2 separate regions of the Homo sapiens genome follow, and region 2 is linked to region 1. A link means that fine-mapping ties the variant in region 1 to the expression of a gene that starts in the linked region. Tissue or cell type: esophagus mucosa. Region 1 holds a variant in brackets; the other region holds the start of a gene. All regions are shown on one strand. Distances are from middle to middle.

Evidence for each region. PIP is the estimated chance that this variant, and not a neighbour inherited with it, causes the effect.
Region 2: USP28 starts here. The variant in region 1 is fine-mapped to the expression of USP28 in esophagus mucosa (GTEx, PIP above 0.99).

What each region holds. Positions count from the first base shown.
Region 1 is chr11:113,767,564-113,775,666 of GRCh38, forward strand. ZW10 (zw10 kinetochore protein) reads right to left here and starts at 6,129. Exons shown (of 16, transcript NM_004724.4): 1 at 5,999-6,129; 2 at 1,270-1,404. The coding sequence starts at 6,103. It also overlaps the pseudogene LOC100288385. RefSeq lists enhancers at 5,860-6,129, 6,260-6,319. The variant G/T (reference allele first, on the strand shown) is at 3,455.
Region 2 is chr11:113,872,052-113,880,151 of GRCh38, forward strand. It overlaps USP28 (ubiquitin specific peptidase 28), which reads right to left and starts at 3,521. Exons shown (of 26, transcript NM_001346252.4): 1 at 3,394-3,521. The coding sequence starts at 3,450. RefSeq lists enhancers at 1,409-1,909, 3,496-3,790, 3,780-4,029, 4,080-4,741 and silencers at 3,220-3,579, 3,600-3,759.

The sequences.
Region 1 (8,103 bases):
CTGCCTCTGAACATTTTAACTGCCTTCTCATATCCTGGACTCATTTCCCTCAAGTTCTTTCTTCAAACTGCAAGCAGAATAGGATTCCGGAAATTCAAATCTGATGTCACTCTCTTGCTTAAAAACCTCTATGGGTTCCACAGGGCCATCAAGATAACGTCCACACTCTTTATCATGTTACTACTAACCTGATATGCAAGGCCCTTGCTTACCTTTCTAATTTCATCTTATGTCCCTTCCCACCAAAATCCCACATTTGTCTTATGGAATACTTGTAGCTCCCCAACAGTGACATCTCTCTATTACCTCCATGCCTCTGCCTACCTAAAACTTATGGCTACTTACAACACTCTTCCTTCCCCTGTTGCCTATCACTTCCCGTCTTGGTTTGGATGCCATTTCCTATAGGAAGCCATCCTTAGCTATATCTCCTCTCTCTAACTGTATTACTCCTATTTATTGCTGTGGCACACTATTACCAGGCACGAGATTCACACCTTGAAATAAAAAACATTCTTATTCAGCAACTATTACACTGCCTGGCACCTTTTAAGTGCAGAATAAATATACCAAATGCCTGAATAAACTTCTAACATACACCTATTGAAAAAATTCTCTATTATGAACCATAAATTTGAATATTTCTCCCATATGACAGAGCTTCAAATATTGAAAATGTTTCTTCCCAAGGCTAAACATCCTCAGTTTATTTCACAGTTCTTCAAATGGTACAGTGTTCAGGGCTAAACCTTCTCATCCAGACCAGCCATCTTTCAAAATAACAACAACCAAAACTAAATAAATTTCAACAGCCAGGGTGTGGCCAGTAAAAGGTACAGAGAGCCAATTACTGTCTTGTTCCAGACACTTCATTTCTAATAGCACAGTCTAATGTTACACTATTGATATTGACTCCCTAATCAATCAACTAATTACAAATGCACTCTGGGGATATTTTTTGAACTGTGCCAGAGGTGCAAAGTAACAGATTGATCCACTCACTTTGGCCACCACAAAGTGCTGGGATTACAGGCATGATGCACCGGGCCTGGTCAAATTTTCTTCCATAAAAAATAAGTTATTTAAATTGCACTTTTGGAAATACTTCTATTTCAGAATTGAAGTCACCCTACAATCATTTAGTTCAATCTCCATTTACCAATCAGAAAAGTGAGGGTTTAAAAAGTTGTACACAATTAAGCTGTCTTAGCAATCAGGAAGCTGAACCACCTCCCTACAAACCTACCCAATATAACAAATTATCCTTACCTCACTCTCTATCCTGGATTTCAGCAGGTCAATGTCTTCAGATAGCTTATCCACCTGGGTAATCAGGCCCTGCGCGCTCTGCATGCTAGGCAGGAATTCACTGTACTTCTTGCTAATCATATTGCACACCTCACCCTAAAATATAAAACAGAATTATATTAAAAGACAGTGAAATGAGTAGAGAACTCTAATAAGAATATATTCATCTTCCACAAGGCATTTTCCATGTTAGAACCTTCTTGCCAATTGCCTATACCCATTCACTTTCCCTCCAAGCCAATGAGTTTATTTCAAAAACACATTTCTCCCACCATGAGGGGTCTCATAACATTATTAGGGTGAAAGAAGACAACAATATCAAACATCACTATGTACTCCAAGAGTATATACAACTATTACTGGTCGATTAAAAAATTAAAAAAAAAAAAGGAAGACAATGATCACCAAACCCCAACGGCGCCCAAGACTTGTACAAATGCTGGAAAAGAGAAAAGGTGGAGCCAGAAGTTCTCATATTGAACTATATCAGACTGTGGTCACCAATTTTAATCATAAATCTAATAGAAAATAAATGGATAAATTAAATCCATAATCTGTATATCTCAATCAATTTCTATTTTCTTGCCTATAATATTTTATGGCCTGATCTTAAAACCCTACATTGATTTGACTTTCATCATCTCCTTTAATACAAAGTAACTTAAACAAAGTACTGAATACTGTGTATTGAATTATTTAATACCTTGAAAGATACAAGGATAAATTATGGGTCCTTCTCTGGGGTGGTCGTGCAGGCAGTAGATGCGGGAAGCCGGACTCCAGGCATCATGTACTACAAATTTAGTGGCTTCACGTTTGAGTTGGTGGGAGCATGGACTTCAGAGGCCTATAGCCCATAAGGATTAATGCCTGTGGTTTCCACAGAAGCACCACCTATCATATTTGCCATACCAACTAAGCTGACTTCTGATTCCACTGCATATAATTTTGCTAGGAAAAACAAAGTTCCAGAGCTGCAGAAGTTTCTCCAGAAAGCTGATGATGTGCCCATCCACCTGAAATGAGGCTTCCCTGACCAAATGCTATACTGGACCACCATGGTGCTGACTGTGGGTGGGATACTGCCTGATCACCCTCTACATGGCTTCACAGCCCCAAAACAAATGAGTTAGCACCAAAACAAATGAGGACTGGTTTGCTTTTTGGCATAAACCTTTTGAATTTTCTTTTTCATTGTTTCTGTTAAATTTCTTTTTTTTTTTTTTTTTTTTTTTGAGATGGAGTCTCGCTCTGTCATCCAGGCTGGAATGCGGTGGTGGAATCTTGGCTCACTGCAACCTCCACCTCCCGGGTACAAGCGATTCTCCTGCCTCAGCCTCCCAAGTAGCTGGGACTACAGGCATGCGCCACCACGCCCAGCTAATTTTTGTATTTTTAGTAGAGACAGGGTTTCACCATGTTGGCCAGGCTGGTCTCGAACTCCTGACCTCAGGTGATCCGCCCACCTCGGCCTCCAAAACTGCTGGGATTATAGGTGTGAGCCATAGTGCCCAGCCTAATTTTTTTTTTTTTTTTTTTACTTGGATGATACATGTTTGCAAGAAAAACAGATATGAAGACAGTATTTTGGCTTGCTTATGAGATGCATATGGCTTGTCAGAGCTCATTCAACAGTTAAAGCCATTGTTTAAAGAAATGATGCATCCCGGCATTGTGGCTCACACCTGTAATCCCAGCACTTTGGGAAGCCAAGGCAGGTGGATCACTTGAGGTCAGGAGTTCAAGAATAGCCTGGCCAACATGGTGAAAACCCATCTCTACTAAAATACAAATAAATTAGCCGGTCGCGGTGGTGGGCGCCTGTAGTCCCAGCTACTTGGGAGGCTGAGGCAGGAGAATCACTTGAACCTAGAAGGCAGAGATTGCAGTGAGCCAATAACTCGCCACTGCATTCCAGCCTGGGCGACAGGGCGAGAGAGACTCTACCTCAAAAAAGAAAAAAAAAAAAAAAGAAATGATGCTGCACTCTGTGTTTGTGCTCCTGATTTCCCTGCAGGTTCTAGATGAAGGTTGCACGTTGCACACAGGCTCATTAACGTCAGTCTGTACTTCCTCAAGTCGGGGACTTGAGGATGCTATTTTTTTTTTTTTTTTTTTTGAGACAGAGTCTCACTCCGTCGCCCAG[G/T]CTGGACTGCAGTGGTGGAGCAATCTCACCTCACTGCAATTTCCACTTCCCGGGTTCAAGCGATTCTTCTGCCTCAGCCTCCAGAGTAGCTGGGATTACAGGCGCCCACCACCACACCCGGCTAATTTGTGTATTTTTAGTAGAGAAGAAGTTTCACCATGTTGGCCAGGCTGATCTGGAGCTCCTGACCTCAGGTTATCTACCCACCTTGGCCTCCCAAAGTGCTGGGATTACAGGCGTGAGCCACCGCACCTGGCTGAGGTTGCGTTTTGAGCATAGGGTACAGAAGCCTTTCTGGATTTGGATGTGGCTGAGGAAAGAAGACAGAAGCCAAGGCCATGCACATAAAATGAGGGGTTTGAGTTAGTACTTACCTGGGCTGGAGTGGGGGCAGGGGGTCCATCTTACAGTAAAATCTTAAAAGAAATTATTTTTAGCCTGTCTCTATTCCTTGGGTGGTTCATTTCAAAGGGTTATTTGCCTCATTCCATATCTTCAGTGAAATCTTACGTGTAATTGTGTGTATGTATTCCACCATGGGAAGAGAGAACACCTGTTTAGTGTTGCACTTTAGACTGGTGTCTTGTTTTGTTAATGCAGCTGTGCCACAAATTCTCCTTTATCTTTTAAAAATGTGATGGCTTTAAATTGATTTTGTTTTTCTTTTTGAGATGGAGTCTCACTCCGTCCCTCGGGCTGGAACGCAGTGGCACAATCTCGGCTCACTGCAACCTCAACCTCCCAGGTTCAAACGATCCTCCTGCCTCAGCCTCCAGAGTAGCTGGGGATTACAGGCGCACACCACCACGCCTGGCTAATTTTGTTAAATTATTATTTTGACAGAGGAATAAATACATGAATTAAAAAAAAGAACAAATTATGCTTGCCCTCAAATTCCTACGTAGTAAAGATACTATATACTTGAGCAACAAGAATACAGGACTGAAATGTAATACAGCAACAAAGTTACAAAGCCTTCCAGGAGCACAAATGAGAAAGAGATCCCCTCTCCCTGAGGGAAGATAAAGATTTTTTTTTATGCAGGAGACATTTGAAATGGAACTTGAAAAATGGGTTTGAAAAATACTACAGGTAAAGATGGAAAAATGGCAACATAAGCAAAATATGGGATTAAAAAAGGGAGGGAGAGCAGAGAAAGTAATTCTCAATTGGCTGAAGATTCAAGTTGGTAAAGGAAACTAGTGAAAGCAAAGAAAGGCATGTTGGGTCCAGAACACGCAGGAGCTAGGGTCGCTTGCCATGCTAGAGTAACTTAAAAACCTGTCCTCTTTCCATCACATTAAACAGTGGTGAAAAATCCGAAAGCCATATTAAAGAAGAGATGTCAGGGATATGACTACTTAAAATTCAGGAAACTACTTTTGTAAAATCAAGAGCTGTTAGGAAGGGTTATACCTGTGCCCTTATGGTGTGTGGCAAACTTGCTCCCTCGAAACCCTACTTGACTCAGATACACAAAATTTTAAATGAAAGCAACTGAAGATGTGGACAAATACTGGCAAGGTAACAATATCAGTACAAAGCAAAACTGTGTGTGGCTACGTGCTTCCAGTTTTTGTATCAATCTCAAGGCAGCAACGTTTACGTAGGTACCAATGACACTCAGCACAGCTTCATGTGCTTGTAGATGAAGTTTTAAAACCACATTAAGAGGCCGGAGACGGTGGCTTACACCTGTAATCCCAGCACTTTGGGAGGCCGAGGCGGGTGGATCACCTGAGGTCAAGAGTTCGAGACCAGTCTGGCCAACATGGTGAAACTCCGTCTGTACTAAAAATACAAAAAAAAAAAAAAAAAAATTAGCCAGGCGTGGTGGCACGCGCCTGTAATCTCAGCTACTCGGGAGGCTGAGGCAGGAGAATCGCTTGAACCCGGGAGGCAGAGGTCGCGGTGAGCCGAGATCACTCCAGCCTGGGCGACAGAGCAAGACTCCATCTCAAAAGATAGATAGATACATAAAAATAAAAACATACTGAGGGTTTGGGTTTGTTTTTTTTTTAATGTCGGGGAGGAGAAAGGTGCAATCCTCCAGGCTATTTTATTCATCAACAAATCAAGGAGTGGGTGGAGGAAATAAACACTCATCGATGGAAGAAGGGGAAGGGGGATCCTGTCTTTTCTATTCCTCTCCTGCGCTCGCTCCCTAGCTTCCTCGGAGCTTCCAGTTGCTCCTCCCGCTCTGCTGGTCTCTTCAGTCTCCCTCTTCCCGCGGCACACCCCTCCCCAACATAACTCCACTCTCCAGTGCTCTCCAGCCACCGCCTGTTCGTCCCCACAGTCCCAGGTCTCCTCGCCTCCTCAGTTCCCAACCCCTGTGTGGGCTCCCCTCCAAGATCCCTCCTCAATCCACACATTCTGGGCCCCTCCACTCCTCATTCAGCCCCCACAACTAGATCTCCCCAACAGGCCCCACTCTGCTGGTCCCCACTCTGTCTGCCCTTAGCCCCTGACTCCTCTCTCCAGTCCCTTCACACAAGGACCCGGAGTCCCCTTCCAGTCAGCAGACAGCTGCCCCGCTCTCACCTTGATCTCCTCCACCCGCCGGGTCAGGCGGCTGATCCGGGTCCCCAGATCCTCCTTTTCCAGCCTCCCGGAGTGTGCCAAAACTTCTGTCACGAACGAGGCCATGGCCAAGACGGGAACCAACGCTGACTGGGTCACTCTCGTAGCCAGCGCCGCAGCTCCCGTCCCGCCGGCCGTCTTGACGCGAGGCCTGCCGGGAAACGGAGTCTCGCGGGCCTCAGACCGCCGCCCGGAAGGCGAGGGGCGCACTACAACTCCCAGCAGGCACCGCGCCAATCCCGAGATGGGATTTCCACGGTGTCCCGTAGTTGGCAAACTGTAAGCAGACGCGTTTTCTTCCTTAGTTGTTTTCAAAGTTCGTTGCTTCCCGCCCGTTTTTCACTGGAGGAAATTAAACGTTTTTAATAACCAGGTCTAACTGAACCTTTCTAAACTTCAAAAGGCTTACTTGTAAAATTATCTAACTGAAAGAGCCAACGAGCCCATCTCGATCTTTTTTCCTCAACTTTTATTGGGCCGCTGTGGCACCAGAATCTACGAATGGCGCCCTCTAGAGTTGTGTAAAGAAGTGGCGTCACCTCATTATAAATAAAAGGTTGCTTATAATTGCATCTATGTACATATATTACATCTACGTGATACATTACACATTTACATTACCTACATTACATATTTATATTACTTAGATATACATAATATTAGTCCTGTGTGAACAAGATACTTAGTACTTTCTGTCATATTATAAATATATAAATGTGTCAAAAGCTTTTAAAAATGGTTTCATTATTTTAATGCATTGCATACAGAAAGATGTTCACAATATTCTATGTATACTATGATTCCTTTTTAAAAACTTAAGTGTATAACCATTGGTCAGAAAACAAAAAGTATGTAAGTATGTATGTAAAGGACAGACATCAAATTATCCTATGGGTGGTGGATTTATGGTATTTATTCTCTTCTCTGCCCTTGCTTTCTCTATTTTTCTGCAGTAAACATACACAGTCCTCCCTTGGTATGGGGGGATTGGTTCCAGAAACCTCCCCTGCCCCAGTAGCAAAATCCGTGGATGCTCAAGTCTCTTACATAAAATGATGTAATGTTTACAAGTAACCAGCACACATCCTCCCCATACACTTTAAATCATCTCTTGATTACTTATAAGACCTAATACAAATCAATCTAAATGCTATAGAGTCGTTATATTGTATTTTGATTTGCATTATTTTTTGTTGTTGTATTGTTATTTTTTATTAGTTTTTTCCAGAATATTTTTGATCTGTGGTTGGTTGGATCCGTGGATACCAAGAGCCAGATGTACTGTTTTGATTAAAAGGTTTTTGGTTTTTTAAAAAGATATATTGTGAGGGTTGACCCCAAGTAGGCACTGACTCTAAGATCCCTGACAATTGTTAAGTGTCTTTGAGACAATCTGCTTATCCCAGTGAAGCAAGGGCCAATTCACATGCCATGAGCAAAGGAAACAAAACTGGGATTGAGAGAGGAAGCACTGAAAACAGCCAAAACATCCTGAGAAACTCCCTTCCTTGGAAAACCAAATCAATTTCTTTTTGGTAGACCTGTCAACTTTGAATTCTAACTGCAACTAATAATAAATGCCCAATGACAAAGAATGACTGATAGATGAAAATTCTGAAACTTTGTACTGCATATTTATTAAGCAATTATCACATAGCAGACATTGTGCTAGGTCTGGGGACCCACAACATGTGAATATATAATCACAGAAAAATATGATAATTACTAATTTGTAGGTAGATGAGGGATGGATCTAGATTTAGTGGAACTTAAATCTTATACAGTTGCAGGGAGGGGAAGGACTCTTTAAAGAAAAGAATATAAAATAATGAATACAAAATTAGATGTCAGCCTTAGAAGGGGCTTGTGCAAGTAATGAGCTGTGAAGTTTAATCTGCCCCTGAGGAAGATGCAAATGGCAGAGGAAATATTGGAGGAAGAGCACCCAGTCTCTGACTGAATTAGAAAGGTTTCACAATGTTAACATTTACAGGAGGCCATCACTTTGGACTGAGTTCCTGCACTAAGCCCAACAGACCAAACCAAAATGGAGTCACTCATGCTAA
Region 2 (8,100 bases), 100 kb after region 1:
TAAGTTCTGAGCACCGAGTCTGGCACATAGTGCATGCTCAATTAGCATTAGCTATTACTATTACCAGCATTATTTTCCTTGTTAAGTACTTGCTTCATTTTACTATTGATTTAATTTCTTTGATGAAACAGAACACATGGAGAGATCTCGCCTGGTAAGATGCTATTTGCCAGTAAGTCTTAAAAATACTGTTTGCAGACCGAGGCGGGCGGATCATGAGGTCAGGAGATCGAGACCATCCTGGCGAACACTGTGAAACCCCGTCTCTACTAAAAATACAGAAACATCAGCCGGGCGTGGTGGTGGGCACCTGTAGTCCCAGCTACTCAGGAGGCTGAGGCTGGAGAATGGCATGAACCCGGGGGGCGGAGCTTGCAGTGAGCAGAGATCGCGCCACTGCACTTCAGCCTGGGCAACAGAGCGAGACTCCGTCTCAAAAAAAAAAAAAAATACTGTTTGCATTTGGGGGCAGAGGGGCATGAGAGTTGTGGAACCAATCACTGACTTACTGATGTTTTAAAAATCAGTTAATGAGACAAAAGGAAACGAAAGGTCAATAAATCAAGAGAAAGCAAAAAGGGCATTAAATTTTCACTGAAACTGGCAGGTTTTTATAAGGCTTCAGCTGACATAAAGAATGTGTGATGTGAACCCTCAGTACAGCTGCCAAGAATGACAGGTTTATAAGAACCAAACTGACTTCAAGTTGTTTCTCCTGTAATAACAGTAAATTTTGCTGCTATCGAAGTCAAGAATTGATTAAAATACAGGAATCTGTCACTATGTAACCTCTTTAGATATTCGAATACCAGTTTGCAGTCTAGAGGATTTAGTGAAATCATAAAGTGTCTACTCTCAGATTCGAGTCCATACTGATAGCATATTTCAAGAGTACTACATATTTCTCGCACTAAAATTCTTGGGAGGCCATAAAGGGTTTTGTCTGTCCTGTGTACAACTGACCAATAAGGGAAGGGAAGCAGTCTAGGCTTTAAATAGCTTCTGAGTGTCAGGGAAGGATAGCTCTCCTCAACTAGAACAATGAAATATCCTTTAAGGGAAAGGTAGAATGCCTCAGAGAGTTCAAAATAAAAGAATCCATTCTAACATGAAACTTACCAAGATGAGGAAGAAGTTATTAAAATCTTTCCTGTAAGATCAAAAGGTACTTTTCCTGTAAGTTCCTTCAACCTATCCTGGTAACTTGAAGCATTTTATTAGCAAAAATAAAAGGGGCAAACATTATCAAGCATTCCAAGCTTATCAGCTTTCCGTATAGGGCAAATCACTGGGAAGAACAGTAAATGTCATCACTCTGCAGGTGGCCAGGAATCGGAGTACTCCAGCCAGCCACAGCCACTGGAGTTCCAAGCCTTCCCAAAATAGCTATGACTTACATACAAATGCTCATCAAGTAGCTCACACACAGTCTCAAACGGAGAATGCTGAAATAGGGTCACTACTCAAACTGCGGCAGAGGTAAATGAAGATGCCACTGATTAATAGGCACATGGTCTTAAATGACTGAGCCACGACAAATTTAAATATGACTTCTCTCTCCCTTAAAATAGTCTCTTCTCTAAATCAATATGATAGTCTCCAAACTAAAATTTTCCCATGTTTTTAAATCACTGTGCTAAAAACAAATAGAACTGACCTCTGAAGCCAGAGAAAAATCTTGACACATTTCAATAGGCACTTGTGAACATCTAACAATATTTCCATTAGAAGTCAGTGCATGATACTTTCGTTTCGGAGCCCAGGACCTGGAAGTATCTTTTTCTACATGAGTTTTAAAAAGCGCATCCAGGCTGGGCGCCCTGGTTCACGCCTGTAATCCCAGCACTTTGGGAGGCCGAGGCGGGCGGATCATGAGGTCAAGAGACCGAGACCATCCTGGCCAACACAGTGAAATCCCATCTCTACTAAAAATACAAAAATTAGCTGGGCGTGGTGGCACGCGCCTGTAGTCCCAGCTACTCGGGAGGCTGAGGCAGGAGAATCGCTTGAACCCGGGAGACGGAAGTTGCAGTGAGCCGAGATCGCGCCACTGCACCCCAGCCTGGGCGACAAAGTGAGACTCCGTCTGGAAAAAAAAAAAAAAAAAAAGTGCGTCCAGACTGGGCGCGGTGGCTCACGCCTGTAATCCCAGCACTCTGGAAGGCCGAGGCGGGCGAATCACCTTAAGTCGGGAGTTTGAGACCAGCCTGACCAATATGGTGAAACCCCGACTCTACTAAAAATACAAAAATTAGCCGGGCCGGTGGCAAGCACCTGTAATACCAGCTACTCAGGAGGGTGAGGCGGAGGATGCAGTGAGCCGACATCGCGCCACAGCACTCCAGCCTAGGCAACAGAGGGAGACTCTGTCGAAAAAAAAAAAAAAAAAAAAAAAAAAGTGTCTCCATGCTAAATACTACTGGCCTTCCAGACAAAAGAGTAAAAAGGTATAAAAGGATTCTCACCTGAGGGTATCTGTCTGCCAGCTTTGTACGACAAATATAGTTTCTCATCTCCAAACTCGTATTTGAACAACTGGCACAGATTTCCCGTTTTCTCTTGAAAAAGTGCAGTACTTGAGGGGTGAGGAGGTGGTGTTAAGTTATAACATTCCGAAGTAACACTAGAAGACATGCTCAAATTGCCCTCTTCCCAAGTTTCTTCATACAGACATTAGCTTTTCTCTCAAACCAGGGTTCTTTCACTCTCACCAGATTCTTAGATCAGAAGTCCTTATATTGATTTCAATCTTCTTAGACATTGGGAACAGGAGATCATCATCAGTAGACTTTCTATTCATCACGCAGCTCCTCCCCCTCCTTAAAAATCTAGAGCGATGAAGGCAATAATTGGGGAGGCTGCGCTGTTTTGTTTTTAAAGCCGGGTTGGGAGGGAGGGAAGTGGTGGTAACTGGGACCCCTGGTCTTATAGAAGACGGTGATTAATTCCGGACTTTAAGTGAGATAACTTCGGTCTGCTTTAACCTTTTAAAAACGCCGCCATAAAACTGATTTAAAAGTCAAAGCAAAACAAAACCAACCAACGCTGCCGCTTTCGGAAGTTTCTCACCCCGGACGGGGCCCAGGAGGGCTCACCTTACTGATCCCTGCGGCGGAGAACCCCACGTCCAGCCCTTTATATTTGGTTTTCCAAAATCTGGAAATCCCCCTACAACTTCAGCTCGCCCACGGACGCGAAGATGCAGTCCTCAATCTCCGCGGCCCGAGCCCCGCAGAGCCCTTGGCCTTCTCACCCACGCTGGCGGGCGCACCCCCTGTCCCGCCCGGCCGGGGCGCCCTCCGCAGCCCGCAACCCGCAGCCCTGCAGGCCCCGCACGCTCCCCTCAGGGCCTGGAGCCCGCCCCCAGCTCCCGCTCGCCGCCGCGGAGCCCACCGAGCCGTGGCCGTCTGCCGCGCCGGCCGCGTCGTCCTGCTGCAGCTCCGCAGTCATGGCCGAGGCGCCCAGCCGCGGGTCACCGGTCTCCCGCCGCAGCCGCCGCCGGCCCAGCCTCTCAGGACTAGGCCCCGCCCCCGCCCTCCACCCCGCTCCGTCCCGCCCCCGCCCGCAGCGCGCGCCGGAGGCTTGGCCCACATGCCCCGCCCCCGGCATGCGCGCGCACGCAAGGCGCGCGGCCCGGGGCCGAACAGTTCTGCGTGCTCCCGCGCACGCCCGGCTGACCAGACGTCGGTCACGTGATCCCGGCCCCGCCTGTCGCTGTTGGTCAGCTTCACAGCCGGTGGAGGCTGCGGGCCGCGCTGCCAGTGTCCGGGAACTGGGTTTGCGAATCCTGGGAGCCGCGTTCCTGAGTCTTCTCCGCTCTCTGCCCTCAAAACCTCATTTGTAGGACTGACCTCCGGCTCCACCCTCCCCACGGGCGAGTTAAAACTGTTCCCCCGCCGTGGGAAACTGCCGAATGACCGTGGAATAAAGGATTTCCCATCAGGCTTTGTAGCCATTTCCAACTCCAATGACATGAAGAAGTGTTCACCATCTTTAAGGAGAGAAGGAGGATGAATGCAGTCGCTTGTCTAAAGCTAACCAAACGGACCAAAGCCTCCGTTCATGGGTGTCCCGCTTGGTGCCCTTAACCCTGATGCTCTTAACCTGGGCATGATAAGGAAAATTGCAGTTTTTCCATTTTCGATTTTCAGAAGTTCAAACTAAAATTTTGTGTTACTTTGTTACGTTTGAGCCAGATATTTACGATTTCATGTTAAAAGACCAGGTGCTCCTATTGAATTGTTTTTTGTTTGGTTGGTTTCGGTTTGTTTTTTTTTTTTTCTTTTTTTTTGAGACGGAGTCTCACTCTGTCCCCTCAAGCTGGAGTGCAGCCGCACGGTCTCGGCTCACTGCAACTTCCGCCTCCTGGGTTCAAGCGATTCTCCTGAGTAGCTGGGATTACAGGCACGCTGTACCACACCCAGGGTTTCACCATGTTGCCCAGGCTGGCCTCGAATTCCTGACCTCAGGTGATCCGCCCGTCTCGGCCTTCCATAATGCTGGGATTATAGGCGTGAGCCACCGCGCCAGGCCTGAATTGTATTTTCAACAACTGTGTGGGAATTGTGATTACTGAACCATGTTTCACATTTAAGATACAAATGTGTTATGATGGCAAACCCACTTGACAGGCTGCTGGGTGTCCCAAATCTGCGTAGAGGCTGAGTGTGGAAGCGCGTCTTTTAAGAGTAGCACCTACACCCTTGCCCTGGTCTGGTCTGACTCTCAAGCTACACTTTTAAGTGTGAATTTAACATGGACGGTGGCCTTTCCTATACTCCTGGCATTGTTGTCGCTGGGATTGTTATGTTTCACCTGCAGGCCTCCCTAGTCTGCATGCGGGCGCAGTTTTTGACAAAAGGAAACAGGTACAGGTCAGGTGCAGCTCCCAGGAGAGGCCAGATTACTCTCTGAGGCCTGAACTAGGACTCCTGCAACTTCCACCACCTGGAGATACAGGGATCCGCTTCCCCTGGCAGATTAACTGGCAGATTGGCATGGCTGCGGTGATACTAACTTGGAATCTTCCACATTCAACAGGCTGACTGTGTTTGTGTCTGCGAGTAGTAGGACATTTTATGTATGTGGCTCTGCCATTTTTCCTTTCCTCATGAGTGACTGTGTTTATGGCCTCAACCTGGGTGTCACTGTAGAACAGGTTGATTTCAGGTTGATGCTGGTTTTCTTTTTTTTTTTTTTTTTTTTTGAGACAGGGTCTCACTCTGTCACCCAGACTGAAATACAGTAGTGAGATCATGGCTCACTGCAGCCTTGAATTCCTGGGCTCAAGCAGTCCAACTGCCTCAGCCTCTGAAGCAGCAGGGACTTCATGCATGTGCCATGCCCAACTAATTTTTGTGTCTTTTTTATGGAGATGGGATCTCACTGTGTTGCCCAGGATGGTCTCAAACTTCTGGTCTCAAGCAATCCTCCTGCCTTGGCCTCCCAAAATTTGGGGATTACAGACATGAGTCACCACGCCCAGCCCACATTGATTTCTGAGTCTAGCTTATTTACAGCATTGCCTATTTCTACACTGCTAGAATGCTTTATTTACCATGTCTCTGGAGCAACCCTTATTTGTCTTTACACATTCATTTTAGGAAATTGCATGTTTATTGTGTGTAAGTGCTGTCAAAACCTATAATCCTTTGTATTAGTCTGTTCTCACACTGCCATAAAGAATTACCTGAGCCTGGGTAAGTTATGAAGAAAAGAGGTTTGACTCAGGGGCATAACAGGAAGCAAGACTGGGAGGCCTCAGGAAACGTACAATCGTGGTGGAAGGCAAAGGGGAAGCAGGCATGTCTCACCATGGCAGAGTAGGAGAGATAGAACAAAAGAAGTGTCCCCCCCGACCCCCCGCACACACACACACACAAAGATCTCATAAGAACTCACTATCATGAGAAATGCATGGGGGAAATCCACCCCATAATCTAATCATGTCCCACCAGGTCCCTCCCCTGGCAAGTGGGAATACAATTCGACATGAGATTTGGGTGGGGACCCAGAGCCAAACCATATTACCCTTATTCATTAAAATTTTCTTTTTTTTTTTTTTTTTTTGAGACGGGGTATCGTTCTGTCGCCCAGGCTGGAGTGCAGTGGTGTGATCTCAGCTCCCTGAAACCTCTGCCTCCCGGGTTCAAGCAGCTCTCCTGCCTCAGACTCCCGAGGGACTACAGGCGCCTCAGACTCCCCTGGGACTAAGGCATGCACCACCACGCCTGGCTAATTTTTAGTAGAGACAGGGTTTCACCATGTTGGCCAGGCTGGTCTCCAACTCTTAACCTTGTGATCCACCTGCCTCTGCCTCCCAAAGTGCTGGGATTACAGGCATGAGCCACCGTGCCCAACCTTCATTAAAATTTTCTTAAAAGACCAGCAGACCTAGGCCAATCACAGGTTCATGCCTGTAATCCCAGCAGTTTAGGAGGCTGAGGTGGGCAGATCACATGAGCTCAGGAGTTGGAGACTACCCTGGGCAATGTGGCAAAACTCCATCTATACAGGAAATACCAAAAAAAAAAAAAAAGTATTAGTCCGTTTTCACGCTGCTGATGAAGACATATCCAAGACTGGGCAATTTACAGAAGAAAGAGGTTTAATTGGACTCACAGTTCCACATGGCTGGGGAGGCCTCAGAATCATGGCGGGAGGTGAAAGGCTCTTCTTACATGGCAGCAGCAAGAGAAAATGAGGAAGAAGCAAAAGTGGAAACCTCTGATAAACCCGTTGGATCTCATGAGACTTATTCACAATCACAAAAATAGCACGGGAAGACCGGCCCTCATGATTCAATTACCTCCCCATGCGTACCACCCACAAACACGTGGGAATTCTGGGAGATAAAATTCAAGTTGAGATTTGGGTGAGGGCACGGCCAAACCATATCATTCCACCTCTGGCCCCTCAAAATCTCAGGTCCTCACATTTCAAAAGCAATCATGCCTTCCCAACAGCCTCTCAAAGTCTTAACTCATTTCAGCATTAACCCAAAAGTCCGCAGTCCAAAGTCTCATCTGAGACAAGGCAAGTCCTTTCTGCCTATGAACCTGTAAAATTAAAAGCAAGCTAGTTATTTCCTAGATACAATGGGGGTACAGGTATTGGGTAAATACAGCAGTTCCCAATGGGAGAAATTGGCCAAAACAAAGGGGTTACAAGGCCCAAGGAAGTCCAAAATCCAGCGAGGCCGTCAAATTGTAAAGCTCTAAAATGATCTCCTTTGACTCCAGCTCTCACATCCAGGTCACACTGATGCAAAAGGTGGGTTCCCATGGTCTTGGGCAGCTCTGCCCCTGTGGCTTTGCAGGGTACAGTCTCCCTCTTGGCTGCTTTCATGGGCTGGCATTGAGTGTCTGCAGCTTTTCCGGGCACACAGTGCAAGCTGTCGGTGGACCCACCATTCTGGGCTCTGGAGGACAGTGACCCTCTTCTCACAGCTCCACTAGGCAGTGCCCCATTAGGGACTCTGTGTGGGGGCTCCGACCCCACATTTCCCTTCCATGCTGCCCTAGTAGAGGTTCTCCATGAGGGCCCCACCCCAGCGGCCAACTTTTGCCTGGGCATCCAGGTGTTTCCATACATCTTCTGAAATCTAGACAGAGGTTCCCAAACCTAAATTCTTGACTTCTGTGCACCTGCAGATTCAACTTGGAAGCTGCCAAGTCTTGGGGCTTCCATCCTTTGAAGCCACAGCCCGAGGTGTGCATTGGTCCCTTTCAGCTATGTCTGGAGCATCTGGGACACAGGGCACCAAGTCCCTAGGCTGCACACTGCATGGGGACTCTGGGCCTGGCCCACAAAACCACTTTTTCCTCCTGGGCCTCCGGACTTGCGATGGGAGGGGCTGTTGTGAAGGTCTCTGACATGGCCTGGAGACATTTTTCCCGTGGTCTTGGTGATTAACATTAGGATCCTTGCTACTTACGCAAATTTCTACAGCTGGCGTGAATTTCTCCCCAGAAAATGGGTTTTTCTTTTCTTTCTTTCTTTTTTTTTTTTTTTGAGGCGGAGTCTTGCTCTCGCTCTGTTACCCAGGCTGGAGTGCAGTGGTGCAATCTTGGCTCACTGCAACCTCTGCCACCCAGGTTC